Linked DNA regions of Homo sapiens: region 2 is linked to region 1. Evidence: fine-mapped expression QTL. Tissue or cell type: whole blood. Region 1 holds a variant in brackets; the other region holds the start of a gene. All regions are shown on one strand. Distances are from middle to middle.

Region 1 (5,803 bases):
GCAGTGAGCTATGATTGCACCACTGCACTCCAGGCTGGGCAACAGAGCAAGACCCTGTCTCTACTAAATAAATAAATTCTTTTGTAGGCTTTGTTCACTTTTATAATTGAAACATGCAAATCTATCAATTGTCTATATTTTGAAAAAGAAGAATAAAACATACAAAAATTGTTTTCAGACAATGGTGTGAGATTGTCTTTAGTTAAGAAGATGTTTAAGGAATCAATTTAGGATGACAGGCATGGTGGCTCATGCCTGTAATCCCAACGCTTTGGGGCTTTGGGAGGCAGAGGTAGGAGGATCTCTTGAGCCCAGCAGTTCCAGACCAGACTGGGCAACATAGTGGAACCTCATCCATACAAAAAATTTAAAAATTAGGCATGTGTGATGGCATGTGCCTGTGGTCCCACCTACCTGGGAGGCTGAGGTGGGAGGATCACTTGAGCCTCAGAGTTTGAGGCTGCAGTGAGCTGCGATTGTACCACTGCACTCCAGCCTGGGTAAAGAAATCTGCTTAGTATATGATAAAAATATTTCACAAAATCGATTTATTATAATATTAGCTAACAAATTCCATGTATTTTACTTAGTAATACATAGTAGAGTGCATGGGTAAAAAGTGATTAATCAAAAAGAAAAGAGACTAACGTATCCTTTAAGCTTTGTTCTTTCCTTTGACCTCCCATAGCATTTTATGCATAGCATTTGTATAGTAGTGAATTCTGTGGGCCTGTGAGCTTCTGAGCATATCGCAGGGCACCTGGCGTACAAATGCTGGTCCAAGGACTGTTTGAATGCAACTGTAAAGCTACAAATATGTGATATCTTTAGCAGCGTTAACGGGTTATCACTACTTGCAGATGCAGCAATCCTAGAAATGGTGAAAATAGTGACCTCTAGTGGCAGAATACCACACTTTCACCCCGATCTTTAATCACAAGAGATTAAAATTAAGAATTCCATTTCACTTAAAACTTCTTAGGTCGGGCATGGTGGCTCGCACCTGTAATCCCAGCATTTTGAGAGGCCGAGGCAAGGGGATCGCTTGATCCCAGGAGCTAGAGACCAGCCTGGGCAACATAGTGAGACCCCTTCTCTGCAAAAAAATTAAAAATTTAGCCAGGCTACTAGGAAGGCCAAGGCGGGAGGATTCCTTGAGTCCAGGAGTTTGAGGCTGTGATGAGCCTCAATTTTTTCCCATTAATTTACAGACAAACTGCATTCCATTCCCTGCCATATTCCTTACCTACCCCCAGTATCTCAGAGTTTCCACTGGTGAAGGCCTACTTCTCCACTCCCAACTGAGAATGACTGACATAGAGAGCTTGTTGACATCCCTGCCAGCCAAGATGATTCTACTGGGCTTTCTTTTCAGTGGTTTGTGTTAGGAAAGTCATTGATTTAGAGGTAAAGTTCCGAAGAGAAAATCATATGAACACTTTTTGGTCTACTGATACCTACCCTCAGTCCCCCTTTTACTAGGGGTACACATTCATTAAAAAACCCCTACTCTGAGCACCCATACAACCATTCTGTTTTTCGCTTTCAGTAAATTACATGATATATTCAACAATTTATTATAAAACAGCCTTTGTGTGAGATGATTTCGTCCAAATGCAGGCTAATGCGAGTGTTCTGTGCATGTTTAAGGCAGGCTAGGCTGAGCTATGCTGGTGGCTGGGTTGGCTTCATTAAATGCATTTTTGACTTGCGAGGGGTTTATCAGAATGTAACCCTGTAAGTCAAGGAGCATCTATGTTATGTTTTTAGTAAGAAGCAGAGTCACACGCTTAAGCTGGAAGGGAGAATAGCTCATTTTACAGAAGAGGAAATAGTGACTGGGAACGGGATGGCAGCATTAACACTCGCTGCTTGGTCCACCATCGGTCCCACAAAGGGTGTTAAAAACAAACAAAAAGGCCTGGCGTGATGGCTCATGCCTGTAATCCCAGCACTTTGCGAGGCTGAGGCGGGCGGATTATCTGAGGCCAGAGTTCGAGATCAGCCTGGCCAACATGGTGAAACCCCGTCTCTACTAAAAATATAAAAATTAGCCGGGCATGGTAGCATGCGCCTGTAATCCCAGCTACTTGGGAGGCTGAGGCAGGAGAACTGCTTGAACCTGGGAGGCAGAGGTTGCAGTGAGCCGAGATCATGCCACTGCATTCCAGCCTGGGCGACAGAGTGAGACTCTGTCTCAGAAAAAAATAAAAATAAAAAAGCCGGGCTCACGCCTGCAATCTCAGCACTTTGGAAGGCCAAGGCCCGTAGATCACTTGAGGTTAGGAGTTCAAGAAGACCAGCCTGACCAATGTGGTGAAACCCCGTCTCTACTAAATATACAAAATTTAGCCGGGCGTGGTGGCTCATACCAGTAACCCCAGCTACTAAGGAGGCTGAGGCAGGAGAATCGCTTGGGCCC[G/A]GGAGGCAGAAGTTGCAGTCAGACGAGATTGCACCACTGCACTCCAGCCTGGGTGACAGAGCAAGACCCTGTCTCAAAAAAGACCCTGTCTCAAAAAAAAAAAAAAAAAAACCATTTTGGGAGAGGTATAATTCCTTCAGCCTGTCATCATTGCAAGTCTAGGTTACAAATACATTCGATCATCTGTTTTACCAGTAAAAAGCAATTCATCGTGCAGGCAACTTTTCTCTTGCTTGAGGCGAATGATCTCTTCTCGTTGCTCATTATTTTCTGTCGTCTTTTCATTGAGGTCCTCTTCACAACAGAAGAAAAAGAAAGTCCTCAAATAAATACTAGGTTCCAGTCCTCATATACACACTATGCCTAACTCTCACATCCTCAGCGGCTCCTTCCGGTCCTGATGGATCTATAGACAAAATCTGTTTCACAGCCAACATCTCCACACCTGGCAAGGACCCCTGGTTGGAGGCTTCGCTTGCTCTCATCTGACTGACCTCCCTGCACCAGCCTTGCCTCTCCTGTGACAGCCCAGTGTACACAGAGCAATCTTTTAAAAATCAAAATCTGCCCAGCGCAGTGGCTCACGCCTATAATCCCAGCACTTTGGGAGGCCAAGGCGGACAAACCACTTGAGGCCAGGAGTTCGAGACCAGCCTGGCCAACATGGTGAAACCCCGTCTCTACTAAATATACAAAAATTAGCTGGGTGTGGTGGCACACACCTGCAATCCCAGCTACTCAGGAGCCTGAGGCAGGAAAATCGCTTGAATCCAGGTGGCAGAGGTTGCAGTGAGCTGAGATCACGCCACTGCACTCAACCTGGACAACAGAGTGAGACTCCATCTCAAAAAAAAGTAAAGTAAAATAAAAATAAAGGCCAAGTGCAGTGGCTCACACCTGTAATCCCAACACTTTGGGAGGCTGAGGCGGGTGGATCACCTGAGGTCAGGAGTTCGAAACCAGCCTGGCCAACCTGGTAAAACCCCGTCTCTACTAAAAATACAAAAATTAGCTGGGTGTGGTGGTGGGCGACTGTAATCCCAGCTACTCAGAAGGCTGAGGCAGGAGAATTGCTTGAGAGGCAGGCGGGGGTTGCAGTGAGCTGAGATCGCGCCATTGCACTCCAGCCTGGGCGACAAGAGTGAAATTCTGTCTCAAAAATAAATAAATAAATAAAACTAAAAATAAAAATCTGCTCGTGTCATTTCTCAGTGAGAAGCCTTGCTACTGCACTGAGGATGAAATCCAAATCCATTACCACAAACTGCAGAGCCCAGCATGACCTGACCTGCCCATCTCCCCACCGCCGTTCCCTCCTTTCCTTCTGTTCCTTGAGTATGTCTGTGGTATAAGAAGAAATAGATGTGGTTTTTGTCCTCTGTTCCTGGAGAACAGAGCTCCTAAAACTTGTGGAATTTCCTAAGTGACAGAAGCATCTTTTGTCATTCATGAAGAGTCAGTTGATTACACCAGACTACATGCTAACGAGGTGACTCAGGGTGGAGCTCCTACGTGGCCTCAGGATGCAGACAGCCACCAGAAACACCAAGTGAAGACAGGGCTGGAACCTGCAGTCCCACTTGTGGACCTCCAGGAAGGGGAGGGAGGGCTGGAGATTGAGCTCTATAAAAATTCCTCTTCTTTTTTTTTATTTTTTTGAGGCAGGATCTTGCTCTGTTGCCCAGGCTGAAGTGTAGTGGCCAATCTTGGCTCACTGCAACCTCCACCTCCTGGGATCAAGAAATCCTTTCACTTTGCCTCTCGAGTAGCTGGGACTACAGGATCACACCACCATGCCTGGCTAATTTTTTGTAGAGACAGGGTTCTGCCATGTTATCCAGGCTGGTCTTCTTGAAGTCCTGGCCTCAAGCAATCTGCCTGCTTTGGCCTCCCAAAGTGCTAGGATTACAGATGTGAGCCATCATGCCCAGCCACTATTTTTCTTTTCTAAAAAAAAAGTTTTAAGCTGGGTGTGGTGGCTCATGCCTGTAATCCCAGCACTTTTGGGAGGCTGAGGCAGGTGGATCACAAGCTCAGGAGTTTGAGACCAGCCTGACCAACATGATGAAACCCTGTCTCTACTAAAAATACAAAAATTAGCCGGGCATGGTGGCACCCACCTGTAATCCCAGCTACTCAGGAGGCTGAGGCAGGAGAATTGCTTGAACCCAGGAGGTGGAGGTTGCAGTGAGCTGAGATCACGCCATTGCACTCCAGCCTGGGCAGCAGAGCAAGACACTATCTCAAAAAAAAAAAAGTTTTAATATTGAATTTATAAAATGTTTTTAGTATATAAATATTGACAGAACAGACTTCTTTCTACTTGAATATTTTACCTCGGTGTATATAAACATTCAATAAATACCAAATACCTAGAGTGTAGCCCTTGTGCCATGCTATTAACAGTACACTGAAAAAGAGAAGCAGAGTCTGTTCCTGCTGTCAAGGGGATGATAATACGATTATGGTTTTAGCTGAAGCTACAAATGGAGATAAGACCTATGGCTAACCATAGGTCAAGGCATCATAAGGACAACATTTTTGAATGCTGAATCTTTTAAGTTAAATCAGCAAAGATCGGCTGGGTGTGTTGGCTCACGCCTGTAGATCTCAGCACTTTGGGAGGCCAAGGCAGAGGGATTCACCTGAGGTCGGGAGTTCCAGACTAGTCTGGCCAACATGGCAAAACTCTGTCTCTACTAAACATCCAAAAATTAGCCAGGCATGGTGGTAGGTGCCTGTAATCCCAGCTACTCGGGAAGCTGAGACAGGAGAATAGCTTGAACCCAGGAGGTGGAGGCAGTGGTGAACCAAGATTGCACCACCGCACTCCAGCCTGGGTGACAGAGTGAGATTCTGTCGAAAATAAATAAATCGGCAAAAATAAAAATTCCTAATTTCAGAATCAGAAGTTTCTGCCCTCACCATGGGAAGAAATGCCCAGGCTAGCCTGATAGCAAGACGATGAAATGTGTGAGCCAAAACTGCCCAGATGGGAAGCTCAGTGAGGCCCAACCACAGTCAGCCAACTCCCCCATTTGCCTCTAGACATGTGGGTTTAATAAATGCTACGACTGTCTGCCACTGAGATACTGATGTTGTCTGCCACAAAGCATGTATTAGCGATAGCTAATGGTACAGCCACCTCAACTAAGGCAGGATTACTTTAAAATATGATACATTCTGCAGTTTTCCCCAACTCTGTTATATATCTTATAAGACACAAATTGCAGCATAATCCTATATAAATGAAATGGATATTTCACGTTAGGGTCTAAGGCCAGGAATTGATCTACTCTCAAGCATAAGATTAAGTGAACCCAGATGAAAAACTATATTCCCAAGATAATACATTTGTATCTTAAATGTAGGTCTCTTCCT
Region 2 (5,517 bases), 880 kb before region 1:
AAGATCAAATAAATGTTAAATAAAATAGTACAAAATGAAATTTCTTAAAAGAAAACTAAACAAAAGAAAAATAAGTTTAGAAAAGCAAGACAGACTCAAGTGAAGTATACTTTACAAATTGCATGGCATACACTTATAATCAAACAGGTAAGCTTGACACAAATTTTTCTTTTTTTGTTTTTGTTTTTGGTTTTTTTTGAGACAGGGTCCCACTCTGTCACCCTGGCTGGAACGCAGTGGCGCGATCACAGCTCATTTGTAGCATTAACCTCCCGGGCAGCTCATTTATAGCATCAACCTCCCGGGCTCAAGCAATCCTCCTACCTCTTCCTCCTAAGTAGCTGGGAACAACATGAAAGTTTTGACAGTCAAAGACTTCACTTGCCTGAGGCATTATGGGTCAGAGAAGAGTTGGCATAAATTTCCACTTGAATGAGTAGATGTGCTGAACAGGATGAATTATGAGATGCTGAAACCAGAAGGGTCTGGAGGATACAGGGGGACTCTGAGAAGGAATCTGTCTCATTGGAGGAACACCAGTCCAGACCTCTCTTCCACCTCACTGTCACTTCCAACACCTTCTGAAAGGAAAACATTGCTGTATTTTTAAAGTGACTCAAAACAGGGTCTATAAGAATACATAATGGAAAACACAATAAAAGTACACATCAGCCTCCGTTCATTTTATAAAAGGGAAATGTATACAGAGATGACACAGTTATCTTCAGTTCCCCCCCATAAACCTATGGTAACATGCAAGCCCTGATTCTTCTTCCTTAACATAAAAGCAAACAACTTCGGGATACTTAGAGAAAGCTAAACACAGATCTGATAAATAAACTCAGTTTATTGTACACCTTTTTAGTTTCTTTATCATCCTATCAGTGGAAGAGTAAATACACAAAAAAAGTCAATGAAAACAATCCTCAGTTTATCCCAGAATGACTTTAGACATGTACATGTTCACTCCTGGGGTACAAGCAGAGCTTGTCTTTCCTGTCCTTTTCTCTCCAGAATTGATGTTGCATATACTAGGTATCCAATAAACACTTATTAAATAGAAGATGCTTAATCTCTCCAGGTTTGAGTATCCTTACACATAAGCTCAGAGTTGGGCAAGATCAGTGGTTATGAAGCTTTTTTTTTTGAGACGGAGTCTCGCTCATCACCCAAGCTGGAGTGCAGTGGCGTGATCTCGGCTCACTGCAATCTCTGCCTCCCGGGTTCAAGTGATTCTCCTGCCTCAGCCTCCAAAGTAGCTGAGATTACAGGCACCCGCCATCACGCCCAGCTAATTTTTGTATTTTTAGTAGAGATGGGTTTCACCATGTTGGCCAGACTGGTCTTGAACTCCTGACCTCAGATGATCCGCCCTCCTCGGCCTCCCAAAGTGCTAGGATTACAGGCGTGAGCCACCGCGCCTGACCAGCTTTTTCTTTTTTTTTAAGAGACAGGGTCTTGCTCTGTTGCCCAGGCTGGATGAAGTGCAGTGGTGCGATCATAGCTCTCTGCAGCCCTGAACTCCTGGGCTCAAATAATCCTCTTGCCTCAGCTACCCCACCCCCCTCCAAGTATCTGGGACTGTAGGTGTACGCCACCCACCTAATTTTTTTTTTAATTGTTTTGTAGAGACGAGGTCTCGCTATGTTACAGGCTGGTCTGGAACTCCTGGGCTCAAGCAATCCTCCCGCCTCAATCTCCCAAAGCGCTATGAGTACAGGCGTGAGCCACGATGCCTGGCATAAAGCTTTTTTGAATCACTGACCCATTTGATGATCTAAAGGAAACTGGTGACCCTCTCATCAGAAAAATGCACATACACACAGAACTTTACATACAATTTCATAGAGTTCACAGACCCACTGAAATACATCCAAGGACTCCTAACCCCAGGGTAAGGAACCCGTGGGCTGGATAAGTGTCTACCAGATCCAACAGCCCACAATTTCATGATTGTTGAGAGCATGGAGAAAGCCATGCCTTGTTAAATAAAGAGAGCACTGCAGAAACCCTAGCTGGGGGCCTCTTCACAGGCTACAGAGAAGGTTTACTTCTGGCCTTACCGCACCGGGGATCACAGTCACGCTCCAGTCTTCCGTCTCATTGTTCAGCACTCCACACGTCGGAATTGGCAATATTCCTAAAGAAAGAAGACCAGCATGCAAAGGCAGCAAGGTCCAGCAGCTCAGGGGGTGCATTGAGTCAGACTGCCTAGGATGGACTCACATTACAGCCTAAGATTGGGCCCTTTACAAGCTGCTTGACACTGGGACAGTGACAACCTCTCTGAACTTGTTTCTTCCTTGGTCAAAGGGGATGAAAAGATATTACTGTTCTTACTAGGAAAATGGGATGATGCACGATGTTAGCTCAATGAATGCTAACCATTATTATTTCAGGCTTTCTTCGAACCTGTCCGTCTGTCCTCTTTGGCCTACAGCAGCCGCCCGATCCTTTTCTCCCCATGCGACTTTGCAGAGAACAGAGGCAGGGGGCCCCAAGGATGCCACCTCTCCAGGCTCCTTGGGAGGTCTGGATCCAGTCCAACCCCCACCCTCCCCAAAAGAGGGCCGGACTTTACCCGCCTCGTCCTGCAGCACTGCCAGGGACACGGTCACACCCTCGGTGTCTCCGACCAGGGACGCGCTGACCGCAGGGCCGGACATTCGGATAAAAGGAGGGATGAAAGCTAGGCGGGAAGGAAAGGGGACAAGGAGGGGTTAGCAGTGGAAGAATCACCGCCTAAGGTGTGTGTGGCGGCTTGCTTTGGCGTTGTCGACTCCCGAAGCTCCCGGGGGAGTCCAAGTCTGGCCCTTTTAACGCCCAGTCCCCTCAGCCCCGGCCCACCGAGGTCACTGCCGCGCCGTACACACCCAGGTCCCCCCACAGAAGCCTCAGGATGCCCTGCAGAAGGAAAAGCCTCAAAAGAAGAGCGGCCGGAGGCTGGAAGCCCATGCCTTAGACCTCGCGGGCCGGGCACAGCAGAACCGCGCCCTCATTAGAACCCAGGAAGGACTCAGACACGAAAACGCAGCAGCCACTGCCCCGCCGCCGCCATCTTGCAAGCGAACGCCCGGAGCTATGGCAACCACCAATCGGCGGCCGGCCAGGAGGAACGCCGCGCTGTGATTGGACCAGTGGCAAGAGCGGGCACCCCGGCCCCGCCCACAAGGCCTAGCATTTTTGCTGCTTGACTCTGGTGGGGAGAGTGAGGGCTGAAAAACTACCTATCCGGTGCTCCACTTAGTACCTGGGTGACGAAACAATCTGTGCACCCAACCCCCGTGACACGCAATTTACCTATATAGCAACCTGTACATGGACCCCTGGGCCTAAAAGTTGAAAACATCAAAATTAAAAAGGTCCTGAAAAGCAGGAGTGCGTGTCCGGCTCAAAAACTGGAGTTTTCCCCTACCCTGGAATTAATCCAACAATAGCCAAGAGCGATCCTATAGACACTGGCTTCTAAATAAAAAGGGTGGGACTTGCTCCTTAATAAACTTGATTTTTATACGGATTTGTTTTAGGGGTGAGTAGAAAAAGGGGATGGGGCTGCCGCGCTGTGTTTATTATCTTTACTATCGTTTATGATGTATTATTTATATTTTATATTTTTATAAAATAAATATATATTTACAAAATAGATATACTTTGTTTTATATATATATATCAGATATACATACTTGATATATATAAAATACATATAGGCCGGGTCTGGCGGCTCATGCCTGTAATCCCAGCAATTTGGGAGGCCGAGGCGGGCGGATCACAATGTCAGGAGTCTGAGACCAGCCTGATCAACATGGTGAAACCCCGTCTCTACTAAAAATACAAAAAATTAGCCAGGCGTGGTGGCAGGCGCCTATTATCCCAGCTACTCAGGAGGCTGAGGCAGGAGAATTGTATGAATCTGGGAGGCGGAGGTTGCAGTGAGCCGCGATTGCACCACTGCACTCAAACCTGGGCGACAGAGCCAGACTCCGTCTCAAAAATATATTTATTTATTTATTTATCTTATAAAATATATATGTATTTATATTTTATCTTATATATATTTATCTTTTATATAAGTATATATTTTGTAAATTTTATACTTATATGTTATAATTTTATAAAATTTATATTTTTATAATTCTTATCATTATCATTTATTATCACTATTGCTTTTATTATCATTCTCCTAGGTTTTTGAAGGATTTTCTCCCCTGCACAGAGCTCTCAGCACTCTGAAAGCAGATCCAATCACAGAACACACAAGAGGTTTTGCCCAGCAATAGGACAGATGTGAAAGAATCAAAATTCTGTCTGGAAAAAAATTGTTTTTTCTTATATCAGTAGCCTCAGAACATTTCAAATATTGTCACGGCTTGGGGACTGAGAGTGCAGGGTCTGAGGTCAGGCTGCCTGGCATGGGATTTCGCCTTCCCTCCACAGATATTCTCAGCTGTTAAGTGACTTTGGGCAAGTCAACCTCTCTAAGTTTCAGCTTCCTCATCTATAAAAAAGGGATGATAATAATCCTTCCTTGGGGATTGTGTGAGGATGAAATGAGGTAACATATCTAATGAGGTTAAACCAATGGCTGGCATACAGTAAGCACTCAGTTAATGATCAGTTACTTGTTAACTATCAGAGAGGTGGTGTATCCTTTAGCTGAGACAATCATGGTGTTCAGCATTGTGGCTGACTGACGGTAAATGCCAAGTAAATGTTTGCCATTATTAGTCTTTTTTTTTTTTCTTTTTGAGACAGGGTCTCACTCTGTCACCCAGGCTGGAATGGTGCAGTGGCACAATCATAGCTCACTGCATCCTCAAACTTCTGGGCTCAGCTGATCCTCCCACCTCAGCCTCCCAAGTAACTGGCAATACACCACCACACCCGGCTAATTTTTGTATTTTTTATAGAGACGGGGTTTCACCATGTGGCCCAGGCTGGTCTCAAACTCCTGGGCTCAAGTGATCCTCCTGCCTTGGCCTCTAAAAGTGCTGGGATTACAGGTATGGGCCACCGTACCCAGCCCCATTATTACTCTTAATGTTCAGTTATATATTCATTGATCAGCAAATCTAACATTGTGAAAGGATTCTGAAAGTTGAGGCTTTATAAGGGCCTGACACTGGGTGTTATCTTTTTCTTATACTCCCTGAAAAACTGTGGGTCACTACAGTTGTAACATGAGCATGAAACTTTTCCCGTGTACCTCAGCTCCTCTCTGGAAGACTGCAAAATGTTTACCTCTCTTGATATCTTGGAATGAAGCCTAGGAGAACGTTACTAAGAGGAAGCTGTCAAACACTTAAATATTTCTGTTATTCCCCATCTGTCTTTGGGGGGAATTAATCTGCAAATTAAGTTGGCAAGGCCAAGCGGTAAAGATTAAGAGATAAATCCTCCCAAAAGAAAACATTTCTGGGCCGGGCTTGGTGGCTTATGCCTGTAATCCCTGCACTTTGGGTGGCAAAGGCACATGGATCACTTGAGGCCAGGAGTTCAAGACCAACCTGGGCAACACAG

Evidence for each region. PIP is the estimated chance that this variant, and not a neighbour inherited with it, causes the effect.
Region 2: TCTN2 starts here. The variant in region 1 is fine-mapped to the expression of TCTN2 in whole blood (INTERVAL, PIP above 0.99).

What each region holds. Positions count from the first base shown.
Region 1 is chr12:122,788,933-122,794,735 of GRCh38, reverse strand. CCDC62 (coiled-coil domain containing 62) reads right to left here. Exons shown (of 13, transcript NM_201435.5): 6 at 2,615-2,716. Among named protein-coding and RNA genes, the nearest start is that of CCDC62, 17 kb to the right of the region's middle. RefSeq lists an enhancer at 4,280-4,833. The variant G/A (reference allele first, on the strand shown) is at 2,423.
Region 2 is chr12:123,668,679-123,674,195 of GRCh38, reverse strand. It overlaps TCTN2 (tectonic family member 2), which reads right to left and starts at 3,083. Exons shown (of 18, transcript NM_024809.5): 1 at 2,874-3,083; 2 at 2,582-2,689; 3 at 2,064-2,140; 4 at 386-581. The coding sequence starts at 2,955.